Regions from separate parts of the Homo sapiens genome. Here regions 2, 3 and 4 are each linked to region 1. Evidence: fine-mapped expression QTL. A gene starts in region 1. Each other region holds a variant in brackets. All regions are shown on one strand. Distances are between the middles of the regions. Region 1 holds the start of POLE (DNA polymerase epsilon, catalytic subunit). Region 2 has its middle 18 kb from the start of MUC8. Region 3 overlaps POLE (DNA polymerase epsilon, catalytic subunit). Region 4 overlaps POLE (DNA polymerase epsilon, catalytic subunit).

Region 1 (5,144 bases):
ACAGAGCTACCATTGACTGGTTACTGTATCACACCGTCCCAGTACTACACACAGGCTCTCATTCACAGAGAGCTACCATTGACTGGTTACTGTATCACACTGTCCCAGTACTCCACACAGGCTCTCATTCACAGAGAGCTACCATTGACTGGTTACTGTATCACACCGTCCCAGTACTCCACATATGCTCTCATTCAGTTTTCATGACAACCCCTACGAGGGAGGCCACTGGTGTCCCCATTTCACACAAGAAGAAACGCAGGCAAACAGCACCCACTGCCTCCTGGGGCACACTCACCTCCCAGGACTGTTTTAAGGATGAGATGAGGTAACCCACATAAAGCATGTAAGGTAAAAGCCATCACTTGTACTTATCCCAGCAGCAGCCTTCCCCCTGCCTGGAGGCCATCACTGAGCTTGGGGCAGGGCAGTGGAGTGGAGCACGTGAGTGCAGTCCTGTGTCCTGAAGCAGGGCAGTCAGTAACCGTCTCTAAGCTCCAAGTTCCAACACACCATGTAGACCCTAAGGGTACCTGCCTCTCTAGGGCTTGCCTGATATGGACAGACAGCGATGAGCACAACAGCAGTTAGGGATCCTTACCACTTGGTTTCTCCTCTGGGAAGAATTTTGTTCAGCTAAGTGTCTGTAAAAAGCTTCACGTTCTCACACGTTTTTTCTATTTTTTTTTTTTTGAGACAGAGTTTCATTCTTTGTTGCCCAGCCTGGAGTGCAATGGCGCGATCTCGGTTCACCGCAACCTCCGCCTGCCGCGTTCAAGTGATTCTCCTGCCTCAGCCTCCTGCGTAGCTGGGATTACAGGCATGCGCCACCACGCCCCGCTAATTTTGTATTTTTTTAGTGGAGACGGGATTTCTCCATGTTGGTCAGGCTGGTCTCGAACTCCTGACCTCAGGTGATCCTCCTGCCTCGGCCTCCCAAAGTGCTGGGATTACAGGTGTGAGCCACCGCGCCGGGCCTCATCCGTTTTCTGCTTATGGCAGGCCAGTCCTCCGGTCATGTTTACCGTTTGCTCTGGCCACCAAGCAGCCGCGTCTTATCCTTGCTCTATTTTTTTTGAGACTGGGTCTGGCTCCGTCGCCCAGGCTGGAGTGCGGTGGCGCGATCCCGGCTCACAGCAGCCTTGACCTGCCGGGCTCAGGTGAACCTCCGGCTCGGATTCGGGAGTATTAATAGCTGGGACCTCGGGCGCGCACCACCAGCCTGTCTAATTTTTCTTGTTTTTACAAGAGAAGGGCCGGGCGCGGAGTCTCACGTCTGTAATCCCAGCACTTTGGAAGGCCGAGGCGGGCGGATCACCTGAGGTCAGGAGTTCGAGACCAGCCTGGCCAACATGGTGAAACCCGGTCTCTACTAAAAATACAAAAACTAGCCGGGCCTGGTGGCGGGCGCCTGTAATTCCAGCTACTCGGGAGGCTGAGGCAGCGGGATCGCTTGAACCCGGGAAGCAGAGGTTGCAGTGAGCCGAGATCGCGCCACTGCACTCCAGCCTGGGCGACAGAGCGGGACTCCCTGCCCAAAAAAATAAAACAGAGGAGACGAGGTCTCTCTCTGTAGCCCAGGCTGATCTAGAACAGGATCCTGGGCTCCAGCGATCCGCCCGCCTCGGCCTCCCCCAGCGCTAGGCCCCCAGGCAGGGTCCCCGGCCCCGCCCCTCCCCGCACCCTCCCCAGCCGCGCGTCCACCCCGCAGGGCCTGGCCCGGGTCCCGCCGCTCTCATCGCCCCCGCCGCGCGGCAGGTCCCAAACGCAGCTGCGCGGAAGGCGAGGCCCGAAAAACCTCAGAAAGAGCCGAGCAGGGAAAGGCCGCGCGGCCCGCCTCGTTTCCCCGCAAAGAAGCCGCGCCCGTAGCGCCTCCGCCCGCCCCGAGCCCCTCCGTCGGCGGTCGGGGCGCGCCGCCCTACCCCAGTCAGGCGCGGCGAGTGCGGGCGGCTGCGGGAACCGGGCCTCCCTCCCGCCTCGGCGGCGCCAGCCGAGGACGGCCCCATGGCACCCTCCGGAGGGCCGGCCCGAGAGCCTCAGGAGGGCGCCCCTCACCTGCTGGCCTCGCCATCCGCGCCTGGGTCCGCGCGCCGCCGCCCGCCGCTCCTCAGAGACATGGAGCCGTTGGCTACCACCTCTGCTTCAGGGGAGAAATTTGGCGCGCTCCCACCCAGACTCGCGAGAGCCGGAAATGCCGCCGTCCATCAAGAGGCGCGCTCCGCCCCTCCCCCGCCCCCCGAGGCGCTCCAATTGGCGCCGGCGCCCGGCGGGGGAGGTGGCCGGCAGGGACCGGGGAAAAGTGTGTGGTAGGCGCGCGCGGCGCACCGTGGGGTTGGGACCGGGCGGCGCTGCGGGCCGCGGTGGGGCCGGAAATGTCAGGCGGTCCCCACTCCGCTCTCGGCGCCTCGGGCTCCGCGCCCGGCCAGCCTGAGGTGGGGTCGGTGCCCCCGGCGGCACGGCGCTGGGGAGGCGATGGCGCCGGCCGCGTCCAGGCTGCGGGCCGAAGCCGGGCTCGGGGCGCTGCCGCGGCGGGCGCTCGCCCAGTACCTGCTCTTCCTGCGGCTCTACCCGGTGCTCACCAAGGCGGCCACCAGGTGAGCGGGGGCGCGGGAATCGGACGCCGCCCCGGCCCCAGGTCGGCCGCAGCGGCGCGGGGCCTGGACGGGAGCGCCGGGCCGGGACCAGGCTGGGGGCGCGCCCGGGTCAGAACCCCCGGAGCGGGCGCCCTCCGACCCGGCGCTGAACTTCCCGCGGCGACACCCGCGTCCGCAGTCAGCGATTGTGAGGCGCCTTGCGGATCCCGCCCTCCCAGCGCGTGGAGGGCCCGCCCAGACCCGGGGGTCGGCGCTGAGGTTCCACCCAAGGACCCAACAGGGGCCCCGCGCGCCCGGGGAAGCCACGGCAAGGGGAGCGGGTCCGCAGGCGCGGGTGAAGACAGGGCGAGGGGAGCGGGTCTGCGGGGCGCGGGTGAAGACAGGGCGAGGGGAGCGGGTCTGCGGGGCGCGGGTGAAGACAGGGCGAGGGGAGCGGGTCTTGGGGGCGCGGGTGAAGACAGGGCGAGGGGAGCGGGTCTGCGGGGCGCGGGTGAAGACAGGGCCAGGGGAGCGGGTCTGCGGGGCACGGGTGAAGACAGGGCCAGGGGAGCGGGTCCTCATGGAGCGTGTGGAGACAGGGCCAAGGGAGCGAGTCTGCGGGGCGCGGGTGAAGACAGCGCCAGGGGAGCGGGTCTTGGGGGCGCGGGTAAAGACAGGGCCAGGGGAGCGGGTCCTCATGGCGCGGGTGGAGACAGGGCCAAGGGAGCGGGTCTGCGGGGCGCGGGTGAAGACAGGGCCAAGGGAGCGGGTCTGCGGGGCGCGGGTGAAGACAGGGCGAGGGGAGCGGGTCTGCGGGGCACGGGTAAAGACAGGGCCAAGGGAGCGGGTCTGCGTGGTGCGGGTGAAGACAGGGCCAGGGGAGCGGGTCTGCGGGGCACGGGTGAAGACAGGGCGAGGGGAGCGGGTCTTGGGGGCGCGGGTGAAGACAGGGCCAGGGGAGCGGGTCTGCGGGGCACGGGTGAAGACAGGGCGAGGGGAGCGGGTCTTGGGGGCGCGGGTGAAGACAGGGCCAGGGGAGCGGGTCTGCGGGGCACGGGTGAAGACAGGGCGAGGGGAGCGGGTCTTGGGGGCGCGGGTGAAGACAGGGCCAGGGGAGCGGGTCTGCGGGGCACGGGTGAAGACAGGGCCAGGGGAGCGGGTCCTCATGGAGCGTGTGGAGACAGGGCCAAGGGAGCGAGTCTGCGGGGCGCGGGTGAAGACAGCGCCAGGGGAGCGGGTCTTGGGGGCGCGGGTAAAGACAGGGCCAGGGGAGCGGGTCCTCATGGCGCGGGTGGAGACAGGGCCAAGGGAGCGGGTCTGCGGGGCGCGGGTGAAGACAGGGCCAAGGGAGCGGGTCTGCGGGGCGCGGGTGAAGACAGGGCGAGGGGAGCGGGTCTGCGGGGCACGGGTAAAGACAGGGCCAAGGGAGCGGGTCTGCGTGGTGCGGGTGAAGACAGGGCCAGGGGAGCGGGTCCACATGGAGCGTGTGGAGACAGGGCCAAGGGAGCGAGTCTGCGGGGCGCGGGTCCGCACGGCGCGGGTGGAGACACGGCCAGGGAAGGTGTTTTGAGAAGGTGACATTGAACAGGCTGTGTAAAGAAGTGGAGCAGAGGCTCTCCTGGCACAGGGAACAGCAGGGCAAAGGTCTCTGTTAGGTTTTGAAGGGAAGGCCGGCGTTAAAGAAAGGCGGAGAGAGGTGCAGCTTGGACTCAGTCCCGAGGGAGGGAAGATCTGTGTGTGGAGAAAGTGAACCCTGAGCAAGAGGCAGGAGATGTGAAGGGAATCGCCAGGGATCTGATCGAGAAGGTGTCTAGGTCCGTGCTAGGAATTTTGGATTTTATAGTCCAGAGAGCTTCTCAGAAGGCAAATACAAACCAAGGCCTGGAGGGAGCCACTGGGCCTGTTCCACCTTTTTATGGAAATTTTTATTGTGATAATTGTAGATTCACAAACAGTTACAAGACTAACATGGAGAGATTCCTTGCACACCTTCCCAGTGTCCCCCATTGGTTACATTCTGTGAAACGTAGTGCAGTATCGACCAGGGCATTGCGTGGACACAGTCCACAGATCCTATTCGGATTTCTCCATTTTTCTTGTAGCTGTATCTGTTCTGTACAGTTTTATCACATCTGTACATTCTTGTGTTCACTACCACAGTCAAAATGCAGAACAGCGTCATGATAGGGCTGTCCTGTTGCCCGTTCATAACCACACAGCTTCCCAACTCCCAAACTGCCAAATTATAGTATAACATCACAGCCAGGATGTTGACATAGATACTGGAAAGCCACTTGTCCTTACCTGTGTGTTTAAGTCCACCGTCTCCACCTTTTGATACAAGAACTATACATTGCAGCCGCTTTAACAAGAATTCCTACCCCCCGCCCATCTGCTGCATGGCCTCAGAACGGCCCTGCTAATTCACCTATGGGAAAGGGACACCCTCCTGCTGGTCACTGCTGTTTTCTGATGACCTCCCTCTCCACAGTGGCATTTTGTCAGCACTTGGGAACTTCCTGGCCCAGATGATTGAGAAGAAGCGGAAAAAAGAAAACTCTAGAAGTCTGG
Region 2 (5,144 bases), 230 kb before region 1:
AGGGGGCGGGGATGTTAGGATTAGGGTTGGGGTAGATGTTATGGGTGTGGGGGTTGAGGGAACGGGGGTGTTAGGTTTAGGGTTGGAGTAGATGTGATGGGTGTTGGGGGTGAGGGGGCAGTGGTGTCAGGTTTAGGGTTAGTGCTGGGATTAGGGTTGGGGTAGATGTGATGAGTGTTGGGGTGTGGTCGCAGGAGGATTTGGCTTTTATTCTGGGGGAGGTGCTGCACTGGGCTGCACAGGGTACCAGCACCGGCCTCCTCTGACCAGATGCTATTTAGACCCCTCCCCCAACCCCTGTGTCCTTGGAGCCCCTCCCTCTGCCCAGCGTCCCTCCCTGAGTTTGCTCTTCTCTGTGGTAAGAGTGAGGGCTGCCTTTGGCTTCCAGGCAGGCAGCTTGGAGGGTGGGCAGGGTGAGGAAGTGGGTTCTGCATCTCCCGGGGAGTCTGAGGCCAGAGGCAGCTCTGAGCAGCCCGGCCGTGCAGGGGGCAGCTGGGGGAGGCTGCGGCCACCCCAGGGCTCTCCTCCATGCTAAGCCAGCAACTGGAAGGCCAGGGGTAGCCGGTTGCAGATGGGGTGGGAGCCAGGGTGACCAGCCACCCGTGTTCCCCAAGACGAAGTGGGCCGTGGGGGTCCCAGGTAAACATGGGGGAATCTGTCACCCTCTGAGAGCAGAGTCCAGTGGGGACGATGCAGGTCTGGGCACGACCTCTGGGAGGGGCAGCAGGTCAGGGGGACCCCTGGTTTCCAAGGAGCAGACACTGCCAGGGGAGAGGAAGCTGTTGACCCTGGTCAGAGGCCCAGGCTGAGGAGAGTGGGGTCAGGGCCACCAGGAACAGCCGGGGGCAGTAGCTCCAACCTCACAGCAGCACCTGGACAGACACCGACTGGGGACCACAGAAAGGTCTAGGATCCATGAGTTATGCCTGCCAACAGCAGACCCTGTGTATGTGTGCATGTGAACGTGTGTGAACATGTATGTGGATGTGTGTGCGTGTGGACATATGTGTGTGCATGTGGATGTGTGTGCGTGTGTTGTGTCTGCATGTGTGTGTGAACTTGTGTGTGTGTGCATGTGTGTGCATGTGAACGTGTGTGTGAACATGGATGTGTGCATGTGGGCGTGTGTATGCAAGTGGATGCGTGTGCATGTGGATGTGTGTGTGCATGTGTGTGCGTATGTGTGTGGACGTGTGTGATGCGTGTGGATATGTATGCATGTGCATTGCGTCAGTGCATTTGGACGTGTGTGTGAACTTGTGTGTGTGTGCGTGTGTGTGCATGTGAACGTGTGTGTGTGAACATGGATGTGTGCATGTGGACGTGTGCGTGTGGTGTGTCTGCATGTGTGTGTGGACTTGTGTGTGTGTGCGTCTGTGCATGTGAACGTGTGTGTGCATGTGAACATGGATGTGTGCATGTGGGCATGTGTATGCAAGTGGATGCATGTGCATGTGGATGTGTGTGTGCATGTGTGTGCGTATGTGTGTGTGGACGTGTGTGATGCATGTGGATATGTATGCATGTGCATTGCAGCAGTGCATTTGGACGTGTGTGTGTGGATGTGTGTGCGCGTGTGTGCATGTGAACGTGTGTGTGAACATGGATGTGTGCATGTGGACGTGTGCGTGTGGTGTCTGCATGTGTGTGTGGACGTGTGTGATGCGTGTGGATATGTATGCATGTGCATTGCATCAGTGCATTTGGACGTGTGTGTGTGGACGTGTGTGATGCGTGTGGATATGTATGCATGTGCATTGCCGCAGTGCATTTGGACGTGTGTGTGTGGATGTGTGTGCGCTTGTGTGCCTGTGGGCGCGTGTGTGTGAACACGGGTGTGAGTGGGTGTGCACGAATCTGTGTGTGTGTGTATGAACATGGAGCTCAGTGCGGGGTCTGCTTCCCCTCCAGTCAGAGCTGCCCTGGCATCTGGCTTTGACCTTAGGATGGGGCATGACCTCGGGAGGCCGTCCACTCTCCCTTCGTGCCGTGGAAGCCCTGGGGACTCAGGGCTGCGTGAGAGGAACCGTGCGGCAGCCGGCAACAGCTCCCAATGTGTGAGTGAGGCCAGGTGAGACCTCCGCCCAGCTGAGCAGCTGATGACCGACACAGAGGTGACCCGGGGAGCTCAGCAGAGGGGCCTAGACAGCAACTCCCTGCACCTGAGGCTCACAGACCCTCGGCAAGCACAGGTGTTCACAGTCTCACAGCAGAAGTGAGGTTCAGACGCTGGACCCCAGCGCACTCATCTGCCAGAGAAGAGGTCAGGGCCCCACAGGGCGAGGGGTCCATGGGGGCGAGAGGCCTGGTGTGGCTGAGGGTCCTGTGGAGCAGAGTGAGGAGACAGCTCCTGCCCTCACCCCAGGCTGAGCAGGACCACCTGGCCGGGGGGTGTGGAGCTCCTGGTGCTGGGTGCTGTCCCCAGGACTTGATGAGGCTGAGTCGTGCCCCAGACCAGTCTCATCCCGGCCCCAGCACCCAAGAAGGTGCCTCTGCGTGGAGAAGGGAGCTCGTGCTGGATGGAGGTCAGACGTGGCCGCCGTGCTAATCCCCAGAGCCTGCGCCTGTGTCGGGTTACCGGGCGGGGGAGTTAAGGCTGCAGATGGAAAAACTGCTAATCAGCTGACCTTAAAACACAATTACCCGGATTATCCGTGGGCCCAGTGCAATCACAAGGGTCCTCGAATGGGGAGGAGGAGGCAGGAGACGAGGCCGGGAGACGCTGCAGGGAGTCTCTGCGGCCGCCGAGGCTCTGAAGACGGAGGGAGGGCCTGGCCCGGACGGGCCACTCCTGGGGCTGACGAGGCAGGCGGCGGGTCCTCCCCAGGCCCCAGCAGAACCGGCCTTGCT[C/T]GCCCCACACTGGGCTTCCAACCTCCAGAGCTGCGAGATGATAAATCTGTGCGGCGTTGCGGTCACTTGCTCCGGCAGCCACAGGAAGCTCTCACATGGTGAGGCGTCGGGAGAGAGGGCTCCGTTGGCTTCCACGCCCCCCAGTCCTTGGGCTCGAACGGGCGGGGGAGTGGGTGGGTGGGTGGGTGGACGGGCGGGCAGGTGGGTGGATGGGCGGGTGAGTGGCTGGGTGGGCGGGCGGGCAGGTGAGTGGATGGCTGGGTGGGTGGGTGGGTGCGGGAGTGGATGGGTGGGTGGGTGGACGGGCGAGTGAGTGGGTGGGTGGGTGAGTGGACGGGCGGGTGAGTGGCTGGGTGGATGAGTGGATTGGGTGGACAGGTGGGTGGATGGGCGGGTGAGTGGATTGGGTGGACAGGTGGGTGGATGGGCGGGTGAGCGGGTGGGTGGGTGAGTGGACAGGTGGGTGGACGGGCAGGTGAGTGGGTGGGTGGGTGGACGGGCGGGTGAGTGGGTGGGTGGATGAGTGGACGGGTGGGTAGGTAGACAGGTGGGTGGATGGGCAGGTGAGCGGATGGGTGGGTGAGTGGACGGGTGGGTAGGTGGACAGGTGGGTGGACAGGCAGGTGAGCGGGTGGGTGGGTGAGCGGGTGGGTGGGTGAGTGGACGGGTGGGTAGGTGGACGGGTGGGTGGACGGGCAGGTGAGCGGGTGGGTGGGTGAGTTGACGGGTGGGTAGGTGACCAGGTGGGTGGACGGGCGGGTGAGCGGGTGGGTGGGTGAGTGGGTGGGTGGGTGAATGGACGGGTGGGTAGGTGGACAGGTGGGTGGACGGGTGGGTGGGTGATGGGTGAGCGAGTGGGCGGGTGAGTGGATGGGCGGGTGATGTGGCTGGGCGGGCAGGTGGGTGGACAGATGGCTGTGAAGCTTCATATCTTAAGTAGAGAGAGATGCAGATACGTATTGAAATCTCAGCCTTATGAATACAGGTATATATCGAATCCGGTTTCCGCTCCTTCAAACATTCTGTGTGCTGTCAGTATTGATTGAGCATTTCCCACACACACGTAGCATTCCCTGTGTGTCTGGCACTCTTCTCCACACTTCTTTAACTCATCTGGTCTTTGCAGCATCCACGAGGGAGGTGCTGCTATCCTCCCCCTTTACAGGTGAGGAGACTGAGGCCGAGGGATGGAGTGATCTGTTGGGGTTAGTGGCTGAGTGCAAATATGAACGCTGCCAGCAGCACCTCAGCCCTGTGCTGGCCTCAGGCCCCGGCTGCACTCTGCTGGGTCCACCCCACCACAGTGCACCCTCCATGCCGTCCGCTCCCAGCTCATTGTCCAGGAGTGGTGGTGCCCGAAAGCTGAGCCTGGGACAGGCCCCTGGGACCTCAGGGGTTGGGGGGCAGGAAACTGAGCATCACACTTTTGGCTTTAACAGCAAGACACTGCCTCTGCGTCCCACCTGCCCGTGAGGTGGAGAATTCCCTACACAGGATATGGGTTCAGATGCTGGGTAGGCAAAGAATGGCCAATGGCCACCGCACCTGTCCTGTCCGGAGAGGGCAGGATGCCTCCCCTGTGATGGGTTTTATCAAATTTCTCTTGAAATTCCTTTTTTTTTTTTTTTTTTCTTTCAGAGACAGGGTCTTGCTCTGTCCCCCAGGCTGCAGTGCAGGTGCGATCTTAGCTCACTGCAGTCTGGAATTCCTGGGCTCAAGCCGTCCTCTGGCCTCAGCCTTCGGAGTAGCTAGGACCACAGGTGCCACCACCACGCCCAGCCCGATTTCTCCAGTTTTGTGTGGTCTAGTTCTATTCCGCACTGCTCAGCACACAAAGGCTTTTGTGTCTGCTGAACCTTTGGAAGGCACAGGACATTTTTGTCCCTTTATAAACTCAAAGCATGATCCTATCTATGTTTAAAAAGCAGACGCGGACAGCGGCGGACATGAGGAAAGGCCAGAGGCAGCAGCCAGCCCATCTCAGGCCCGTCACCGTGGAAGCAGCGGCCGGAGGAGCCACAGAAAGCAAAACTCCCAAAGCCGCCCACGTACTTCGGGTCTTAGCTTGGATCTCCTGGAGACAGGCCCTGCGAAGGAGCTGGGCTGGGAGCAGGTTTATCAGGGCGTGATCTTAGGAGGCAGATGTAGGAGGTGAGGAAGGCAGGGTGTGTAGAGTGCAGCTGACCCAACCGGCCCGGCCGACCCACAGGACGCCCTGGGCTGAGACGCTGTCAGCACTGCCCCAGGCTGAGACCACCTTGGGAGGGGTGTAACCTTGTGCAGGGGGGCTCTCT
Region 3 (5,144 bases), 60 kb before region 1:
CCAGGCCCTGCTCACTCCCTCCATCCTGCAGGCCTGAACGCCGTGCACCACCACACGGCAGCTTGGCGCGTCCCCCAGCCTCTGCTCAGATGCCCCTCGGCAAGACCTTCCTGTGGCCGAGCTGTGCAACTCCCTCTTCCTCCTTTCCTTCTCTTCACACTTGGGAGTGTCTGCCTCCTTCCGCTAGAACGAAGCACCCACAAGGCCAGCTCTTGACCCAAGGCAGGTGCTCAACCAGTGTGGACAGAACAGTCCATCAGGCTCAGGGCATGGACTGGTCTGCAGGGCAGGCCCCTTGGAAGACACCAGGGCGTGCCTCAGGACCTGCACACACCCCGGCTCCCGGGAGTGCACAGAAACCCCCCTGTGGACTCCAGGGCACACGGGCAGGCGGCATGCACGACTCACCAGGTCCTGCAGGGTGAAGGCCATCAGCTTCTTCTGTAGAACTTCCACCAGCGTCATCTCGATGGCAGAGGAGTCGTAGGGCGCCTGACAGTTGGAGCAGAGCCACTGAGGCAGGACCGCCCCATCCTAGGCAGAGCAAGAGTGCGAGAGGTCACCAGCCCAGCCTCCAGACCACAGTGCCATGGGCAGGATCTCAGGAGAGGAAGGGGCTGTGAGAAGCGCCTGGTGACGGGCGAGTCTCCTGAGTGCAGCTGCACGCACTCTGGCCTCCCACCTGCACTTGAGCCCTTCCTAGGACAACATTCCGAACATGGTGTGGGGAGGCCTGGGAAGGGGCCTGTTGCCAATCCATGTGAGTCAGAGGGGCAGCAGGTGTGACCCACAGAGCTGGAGCTGCAGAAGCCCTCAAGACACCGCAGTGCCCTCGGATGTTCTGCTCCACAGTGAAGGGCCCGCTGGAGCTCAGCCGCACCTCTGAGAAGGAAGAGTCTTTACACAGGTCCAGGTCGCGGCAGAAGTTACAGCTGCGGCAGATGACCTCAGGAAGCACGTAGGAGCGGCAGGGGTCTCGGAACTGGGCCTCCTCGGAGAACTCGCCGACATCCACCAGGCGAAGCAGGTCTCGGTTCAGCTTATTCACCTGGTTTGTGATGTTGGTGTCCAGGGACAGCACCTGCAGAGACCACAGCCCACATCGGGAAGGAGCTCCCGGGGCCTCCCTGCTGCTCTGTCTGGACCAGAACCCTCTGGACCTTAGGCTACAGTTTCCTGGTGTCCTTTCCTCCCTTCCTTAGTCCCTTTAGACGCCTCAGCTGACTTCTCTACATTAGCAGTTTTCCATCGGTGAGGACAGGCTTCCCTGGGGAATTTACTAAACATTTAAGGAAGAAATGCTGCTGATTCTACACAGTATCTTTCAAAACACTGAAGAGAGAGAGCACTCAACCCATTCTATGAGGCCAGCATCCCCTGATACTAGAACCAAAGACCGTACTAAGAAACTACAGACCAATAACAGCCTGAGCACAGACACAAAAATGCGCAACGAGATATTAGCAAATTGAATGCAAGATCGAAAAAAAGAATACATAATCCAGAAAGAGACTCACATAGATAAGGTTACTAAGTTATGGAAAAAGGTACAAAGATGATTCGATAGAAAAAGAATAGTCTTTTCAACAAATGGTTCTTGAATACAAGCGTATCTTGGAGATATGGCAAGTTCGGTTTCAAACCACCTCAATGGACTAACATCACAATAAAGCAAATCACACAAATTATTTGGTTTCTCAGTGCATATAAAAGTTACATGATTTTTGGCTCACGCTTGTTTTCTCAGTACATATAAAAGTTACGTGATTTGTGGTGGCTCACGCCTGTAATCCCAGCACTTTGGTAGGCCAAGGCAGGTGGATGGCCTGAGGTCAGGAGTTCAAGACCATCCTGGCCAACACAGTGAAACCCCATTTCTATTAAAAATACAAAAATTGGCTGGGCATGGTGGCGGGTGCACCTGTGATCCCAGCTACCTGGGAGGCTGAAGCAGGGAATCGCTTGAACCCAGGAGGTGGAGGTTGCAGTTAGCCAAGATTGCACCACTGCACTCCAGCCTGAGTGACAGAGTGAGACTCCATCTCAAAAAAAAAAAAAGCTATGTGATTTTTTTTATTTTGGGACAGGATTTCACTCTGTCACCCAGAATGGACTGCAGTGGCACAATCATGGCTCACTGCAGCATTGACCTCTTGGGGCTCAATTGATCCTTCTACCTCAGCCTTCCCAGTAGCTGGGACGACAGGCATGCGCCACCATGCCCAGGTAATGTTTGTAATCGTTGTAAAGATGGGTTTTGCCATGTTGCCCAGGCTGGTCTTGAACTGCTGGGCTCAAACAGTCAACCCACCCTGACCTCCCAAAGTGCTGGGATTACAGGTGTGAGTCACTCTACCCAGACAAAACTTAGGTTTACCCTATACTGTAGTCTATTAAGTGCATAACAGCATTATGTCTAAAAAACAATGTATGTACCTTAATTTTAAAATGTTTTATTGCTCAGAAATATTAACGATCATCTGAGCCTTCAGTGAGTCGCAATCGTTTTGCTGGTGGAGGGTCTTGCCTCAATGTAAACGGCTGCTGACTGATCAGGGTGGTATTGCTGAGAGTTGGGGTGGCTGTGGC[A/T]ATTTCTTAAAACAAGACAACAATGAAGTTTGCTGCATCAACTGACTCTTCCTTCCATGAAAGACTCTGTAGCATGTGATGCTGTTTGATAACATTTCACCCACAGTAGAACTTCTTTCAAAATTGGAGTCGGTCCTCTCAAATTCTGCTGCTGCTTTGGCAACTAAGTTTATGGAATATTCTCAATCCTTTGTCATTTCCACAATGTTCACTTTCATCTCAAGAAACTACTTTTTGGCCAGGTGCGGTGGCTCACGCCTGTAATCCCAGCACTTTGGGAGGCCGAGGTGGGCAGATCACAAGGTCAGGAGATCGAGACCATCCTGGCTAACATGGTGAAACCCTGTCTCTACTAAAAATACGAAAATTAGCCAGGTGTGGTGGCGCTTGCCTGTAGTCCCAGCTACTCGGGAGGCTGAGGCAGGAGAATGGCGTGAACCTGGGAGGGAGCTTGCAGTGAGCCAAGATCGCGCCACTGCACTCCAGCCTGGGCGAGAGTGCGAGACTCCATCTTAAAAAAAAAACTACTTTTTTGGGCTGGGCGTGGTGGCTTGTGCCTGTAATCCCAGCACTTTGGGAGGCCAAGGCGGGTGGATCACCTGAGGTCAGGAGTTTGAGACCAGCCTGACCAATATGGTGAAACTCTGTCTCTATTAAAAATACAAAAATTAGCTGAGCATTGTGGCGGGCACCTGTAATCCCAGCTACTTGGGAGGCTGATGTAGGAAAATCACTTGAACCCAGGAGGCGGAGGTTGCAGCGAGCCAAGACCGCACCACTGTATTCCAGCCTGGGCGACAGAGCAAGGAGGCTCCATCTCAAAACAAAACAAAACAAAACAAAACAAAACAAAACAAAACAAAAAACTACTTTACTGCTCATCCATGAAAAGCCACTCTTTATCTGTTAAATTTTGTCCTGAGATTGCAGCAACTTGGTCACATCTTCAGGCTCCACTTCTAATTCTAGTTCCCTTGCTGTTTCCACCACATCTGCAGTCACGCCTCCCACAATAGTCTTGAATCCCTCAAAGTCATCCATGAGGGTCAGAATCAACTTCTTCCACACTCCTGTTAATGTTGATATTTTGACCCCTTCTCCCATGAGTCACAAATGTTCTTAATGGCATCCAGAATGGTGAATCCTTTCTAGAAGGTTTTCAATTTACTGTGCCCAGTTCCATCAGGGGAATCACTATCTATGGCAGCTATAGCCTCATGAAATATATTTTTAAATAATAAACGTTGAAAGTCGAAATTGCTCCTTGATCCATGGGCTGCAGAAGGGATGCTGTGTCCGCAGGCATGAAAGCAACATTCATCTCCTTGTACGTCTCCATCAGAGCTCTTGGGTGACCAGGTCCACTGTCAATGAGCAGTACTATTTTGGAAGGAATCTTTTTCTGAGCTGCAGGTAGTGGCCTTAAAAGACTGAATGAGCAGTGGCTTCGACTTAAAGTCACCAGCTGCATCTGCCGCTAACAAGAGTCAGCCTTTCCTCTGAAGCCAGGCTCTGAGGCCTCCTCTCTAGCTATGAAAGTCCTAGATGGCATCTTCTTCCAAAAGAAGGCTGTTTTGTCTACACGGAAAATATGTTGTCAGTGTAGCCACCTTCGCCAATGATCCCAGACAGATCTTCTGGAGAACTCGCTGCAGCCTCTCCACCCGCACCTGTTGCCTCATTTGCCCTTTTATGTTACTGGGACGGCTTCTCTCCCTAAACCCCATGAACCAACCTCCGCCAGCTTCAAGCTTTCCTTCTACAGCCTCCTCAGCTCTCAGCCTTCATGGAACTGAACAGAGTGAGAGCCTTGCTCTGGATTAGGCTCTGGCTTGAGGGGATGTTATATCTGGTTTGATCTATCCAGACTCAACTTTCTCCATATCAGCAACAGGATGCTTCACTTCTTTATCTTTCATGTGTTCACTGGAGGAGCACTTGTAATTTCCTTCAAGAACCTTTCCTTTGCAGTTGACTTGGCTAACTGGTGTGAGAGGCCTAGCTTTCAGCCTGTCTCGACTTTCAACATGCCTTCCTAAGTTTAGCCATTTCTAGCTCTTTATGTAAAGTGAGAGACGTGTGACTCTTCCTTTCACTTGAACACGTAGAGGCCATTGCAGGGCTATTAACTTACCTAATTTCTATAGTGTTGTGTCACCGGGACTGGGGAGGCCCAAGGAGAAAGGGCGAGATGGCAGAATGGCCCGTGAGTGGAGCAATCAGGACACACACAACATTGATGAAGCTCATTGTCTTCTATGCGCACGGTTCATGGCGCCCCAAAACAATTGCCATAGAAGCATCAAAGGTTATCACGGCTGATATAATAATAGTGGAAAAGTCTGAAATATCCTGAGAGTTACCAACATGTGACACAGACACAGTGAGCACATGCTGTTGGAAAGATGAGACTTGCTCAAGACAAGATTCCCACAAACCTTCCATTTATAAAAATACAGGTAACCGCTTCGAAGCACAATAAGACAGGATATGCCTGCAATCAGATATCCCATGCAGAAATATGGACTTGGATCTACAGCATGCACATTGTATAA
Region 4 (5,144 bases), 27 kb before region 1:
ACTGCTCGAATATCAAAGTCTTGAAGGGAAGAGCTCTTGAGCCATTTCCGGAGAAAGTGCTTCCTCACCGTGGGCTCTGCTTGGAAAATGGCAAGTGGGATGGCCCTGGGTAAGGAAGACAGGCACACAGCTCAGTAACAGTGAAAATCACCCAAAATCTGATCCTAACTCTTATCAAATGAACATGGAAATAAGGACGTGTAACAGCTGTTCACAAACATCAATGTATACATCTGCGTGCATATGTATGCACAAACATGCCTACAGGTTCCTCGGGGAGTAACACGTGCGTATGTGTAAACACGTGCGTGTGTGCACGTAAACATGTCTACATGTTCCTCACAGCGTAACCATGGGCATGCATATACATAAACACATGCGTGTGCGTAGACATGTCTGCGTTTCTCATTGAGTAACCACGTGCATGCGTACAGGCAAACACGTGCATGTTCGTAACTATGTCTACATGTTTCTCACGGCATAACCATGTGCATGCACATACATAAACGCATGCGTGCGTAAACATGTCTACGTTTCTGAGTAACCACGCGCATGCGTATAGGCAAAGACATGCGTGTGTGCGTAAACATGTCTGCGTTTCTGAGTAACCACGTGCATGCATACAGGCAAACGTGCACGTTCATAACCATGTCTACATGTTCCTTGCTGAGTAACACACAGAAGACTCAGGCTGCTTTCTAGAAAAAACGAGCCTGTTTTCATGTCACTAGCAAAGCAACTGGCAACCGTCAGTGCTTCCCTTTCACTGGAGGAAACATCTGTGGTGAATACTGCAAACATAAGGAGACCTAAAGAAGACACGCACACTATGATCCACTCGGCTCCATCAAGCTTCAACACTTGGCCACTCTGACTTCCTTTGTGAGACGATTAGAGTGAAGCCCTGTGTGACCCCAACCTATTCCCTCCTCACACAGAAGTAAAGACAACCCTTATTCTGGTGTTCATCAACCCCATGCAGGCATTTGTACTGGTCCTATTTGTATATAACCACCAAAAAAAAAAAAAAAAAAAAAAAAAAAGAGCAGTTTCCATGTTTTTAAGTTTTACATACACGGAGGCATAAGGGTCTTCCTTCAACCTGATTTTTGCTTTTTTCTCCAAAGTGGTTTCAAACTGTCAGTGTTGTAACCTGTAGCTGCAATTCAACCCTTTGAACTCTGGTATAGTGTATCTCATTCCCTACAAAATGGCAATTATCCATTTCTGGTTGATGGACACTTATGCCATCCCCAAACTTGGTGTTAAACACAGCCCAAATCTGTAAGGAACCCCTTACCTCTCCGTGACAGGGCAGCCCTCACCTCTCTGTGATGAGGGGAGCCCTCACCTCTCCGTGACGGAGGGAGCCCTCACCTGTCCGTGATGGGAGGAGCCCTCACCTCTCCGTGATGGGGGGAGCCCTCACCTCTCCGTGACAGGGGAGCCCTCGGGCTTGCGGGAGATGATGTAGCGGCAACTCAGCCCTGCATCCTTGACCATCTGGTCTCCCAGGAACTCGGCCAGGCGCTTTGCTGTGCTGATGGACGTAGACTTCTGCTCCCCGTAATCTTCCAGCTTCCGAGACATGGAACGGTTCTCAGAGATGAGCTCGAATAGCTCAGAGTCAGGCATGTTGGCTGCCTAGAGAAAGACAATGGGTAAAACACTGCAGAAATCAAGGGGCAGAGTCTGAGCTCACCCTGGACTGTGCTCCTCTAGGCCATGCCCTTCTCTAGCCTGAGACGCAGAAGGCTGCAATTTCAAGAGCTCTCTAATATGCCTGTGTGGCAATACTTTAAAACATACACACACACACAAAACTTTAGCTTTTATATTTTTTTTGAGACAGAGTCTCATTCTGTCACCCAGGCTGGAGTGCAGTGGTGCAATCTCAACTCACTAAAACCTCCCCTCCTGGGTTCAAGAGATTCTCGTGCCTCAGCCTCCCAAGTAGCTGAGATTACAGGCACATGCCATCACATCCAGCTAATTTTTGTATTTTTAGTAGAGAAAGGGTTTTGCCATGTTGGCCAGGCTGGTTTCCAACTCCTGACCTCAAGTGGTCTGCCCGCCGAGGCCTCCCAAGTGCTGGGATTACAGGCGTGAGCCACCACGCCTGGCTTGGCTTTTATTTTATTAAACTGTGCACAAAATATCAAGAAGAATTTACTGAAGAGCACCAAGGCTGCAGAAAAGGATGTTGCTCGGCCTAAGACAGGAAGTTTTTCTCCTTGAAAGGAAGAGAAAGAAGGGGCAGGAAGAGCCAGAAGAGAGGAAAGAGAAACTCCGGC[C/T]GGCTGGAGAGTGGCCTGAGCAGTGGAGGCCTGAGCAGTTCCAGTGTGGCACCCACATCCAGCTGGAGCTGTGCTTTGCACACATGTTCCTGACCACAGGCCCCCCACATCCTGTAAGGAGTGCTGGGCTCATGAATATTCTGTGTGATACCCTGGTGCTCCCTTGCTCGTGTGTTTCACTCTATACAAGACAATATGCCAAGAAACAGAAGCCCACACAGCAAAGCAAGCCAGGAAAGCACTGCAGAGTGTTCCAGTATTCCTTCTACCCAAGACGCCTGTGCCTGGGAAACATATGCACCGAGATATCTCGTTCAATGCAACACCATTGATAACAATGGAAATGTGAAACCTATCTGGTAGTAAATAATCGTGGGCTAGTTACGTAAATTAAGGTATGTAAACTGTCAAAATGTTATGTAGCCTGAAAAATATAAAAAATACAAAGTAACATAGAAATAAACAAATATCCCAGGCTGGAGTGCAGTGGTGCAGTCACGGCTCACTGTGGCCTCTACTTCCTGGTCTCAAGTGATCCTCCCAAGTAGCTGGGACCACAGGCACGCATCACCATGCCAGGCTTATCACGCTATTTAGAAAAACGTTTCCCTCAGAGTTGTGTCCCTGGATGCAGAAGTTGAGGGGAACTCCAAGGGGGTAATTGTGCTCAGGAGGTCTTGGGATTTCATTAGGACTGGCCCTGTGTTCTTCGGTCACCTTGGTCTCCAGGAGCCCAGGAAGCACGGGGTCCCCTTCTTGCTTCATCCTTCATCCCTCAGAGCAGGTGAGGGTGGAGGGTAGGCCTTTACCTTGCTGTACAGCACGTCCAGCCAGTAGTCAGCCACCTTGGCTACAGAGCCATACACCTCTTCCAGCGTGCTGCCCTTGAGGAAGGCCTCAAACACCGAGGATTGGAAGATCTTAATCAGCTGCAGTTCCCCGCGGCGTTTGACCTCAAAGCCCTTGAGCTCAGCCAGAGAACCGTCTTCATTGAACACAGCATACCTGAAAAAAAAAAAAAAGGCAAGCACAGCAGTGGCAAGGAGCGCTGGGGAGCCACCAGCTGTGCCTCATCCTCTCTGCCCGCCTCTTCCCTTTCCAACCCTCCACCTGTCATCCACGAGGCAGCAAACGTCTCTCTCCCTTAGGCCACTGCTTCTCTAAAAGGAAAATGGCTGAAGGGCCTGCAGCCACAGAGCCAGAATACAGCAGGCGGGCAGACAGAGCTGGTGCAAACGGAATCAGTAAGATCACAAGAACCCAGGTCTGTTTCTATCCTGGCTCCTGATCCAACCTCCTTTCTGGGCTAAATTTAATCTATCTCAATCCATGTCCTTTCTAAAGCACAAAAGCTATGAGAGTCCCACCTCTTCTTCAATTTCTTGCCTTCTTCCTTGGAGGCTGGAAGAATCATGGCAAGGTAGGGCCCATCAACCTCAAAAAAGATGCTGTTCTCTGAGCGGGTGACGTAGGTGAGTGAGGACGGCTCAGCCAGCTCCTGGTACTGGTCATTGGTGAAGCCTTCCTGAGAAACAAGAGTGAAGAGGGGGCAGCTTCACTCATGATGGCCCAAACCTGGAAACCACCTGGTGTCCCTCCAGGAGTGGATGGATTGACAAACCGAGGCTTTTCCACATAACTAACACGACTTGGCAGCAGGAAGGAAGGAAGTTCTGATGCATGCAACCAAGTGGTGAAACTCAGGTGTATCTGTTAGGTCCAAGAAGCCAGACCCAAAATGCTACAGGCCGTATGCTTCCCTTTACATGACATTTTCGACAAAGCAAAATTATAGTACAAAAAACACATTGTGGGTTGCCAGGGTTTCGGGGTAGGGAGAGGATTTGCTGACAAAGGGGTTGCAGCTGTTTTGTGTTGCTTCGTGGTGCTGGACACACACACTATGCACTTGTCCAAACCCACAGGGCTGTACGCTACAGAGTGAACGTCACTGTGTGCAAATTACAAGCCATCCAGCCATGGTGCTGGGATCCCAAGAGGGGTGCAGACTGGGCCAAATGAGCCCAACAGCACTGTGGACATACAGCAGAACATGCCAACAGGGTGGGGAGGAAGGAGCTGCCCGTGAACTCTGCTGACTGGACAGGGTAAGGCTGAAAACAAAAGTAACTATCTACAAATGCTGTACAGTGGCTGGTGAAATTATTTCTCATGGGACACAAGTCTGTTAGCAATTCTAAAACTACTTTACATGGACTCTAGGATTGAACAAACACATATATTGAGAAATTCGAAACAGGTTTATCACTGAAGGAGAAAGAAGTCACTAATAAGAAAGGGGCAGACTCATGTGTTTAAATGCATCCATGCAGACAGACAGACACAGAAATAAACAGTTCTGTGTGCGTGCGTTACTAGAGACATACTTCCTGGCTGCCTCCACTATGAGAGACTGGAAGCTATGACACTCCCAGGAACAGTGAGCACAGCAAGCACCCCATCTCGGGTTTTTACATCATTCTTCTCGGAGAACTGGCTGACTCCAGGTTGGAGCAGGGAAAATACAAGATGAGGCTGGTGGACCTTACAGTACCAAGAAGTAGGAAAGTGCTCCAGAAACAAAGACCAGAAGAGGGCGTGTCCCAAGAACACGCCACAAACTAGGAGGCCCCAGTGGCCCAAGGGGAACACGTGGAGCAGGAAGCCACTCCGGTCCTATGAACAATAACCCTGGGATGTCCACTCTGATCCGCAAATCCACACTGATGTCAATAAGCAGACAAATAAACGAGAACAAATGGAAGAGAAGGATAGCAACGCTTCCCTACAGGATCCCAATTGATACAGTAGAAGGAATGAAGGAAACAGACAATCGCCAGAGAAAAACCA

What was found. PIP is the estimated chance that this variant, and not a neighbour inherited with it, causes the effect. A credible set is the group of variants that fine-mapping cannot tell apart.
Region 2: its variant is the best candidate, but not a certain one, in a credible set for the expression of POLE in cerebellar hemisphere (GTEx, PIP 0.51).
Region 3: its variant is the best candidate, but not a certain one, in a credible set for the expression of POLE in whole blood (INTERVAL, PIP 0.62).
Region 4: its variant is the best candidate, but not a certain one, in a credible set for the expression of POLE in whole blood (TOPMed, PIP 0.89).

Annotation. Positions count from the first base shown.
Region 1 is chr12:132,685,199-132,690,342 of GRCh38, forward strand. POLE (DNA polymerase epsilon, catalytic subunit) reads right to left here and starts at 2,144. Exons shown (of 49, transcript NM_006231.4): 1 at 2,056-2,144. The coding sequence starts at 2,117. PXMP2 (peroxisomal membrane protein 2) reads left to right here and starts at 2,389. Exons shown (of 5, transcript NM_018663.3): 1 at 2,389-2,594; 2 at 5,065-5,144. The coding sequence starts at 2,473. RefSeq lists a silencer at 1,595-2,904.
Region 2 is chr12:132,454,456-132,459,599 of GRCh38, forward strand. No RefSeq gene overlaps it. Among named protein-coding and RNA genes, the nearest start is that of MUC8, 18 kb to the right of the region's middle. The variant C/T (reference allele first, on the strand shown) is at 2,851.
Region 3 is chr12:132,625,237-132,630,380 of GRCh38, forward strand. POLE (DNA polymerase epsilon, catalytic subunit) reads right to left here. Exons shown (of 49, transcript NM_006231.4): 46 at 881-1,081; 47 at 409-534. Among named protein-coding and RNA genes, the nearest start is that of P2RX2, 9.0 kb to the left of the region's middle. The variant A/T (reference allele first, on the strand shown) is at 2,590.
Region 4 is chr12:132,657,866-132,663,009 of GRCh38, forward strand. POLE (DNA polymerase epsilon, catalytic subunit) reads right to left here. Exons shown (of 49, transcript NM_006231.4): 24 at 3,662-3,819; 25 at 3,104-3,299; 26 at 1,430-1,644; 27 at 3-105. Among named protein-coding and RNA genes, the nearest start is that of POLE, 27 kb to the right of the region's middle. The variant C/T (reference allele first, on the strand shown) is at 2,295.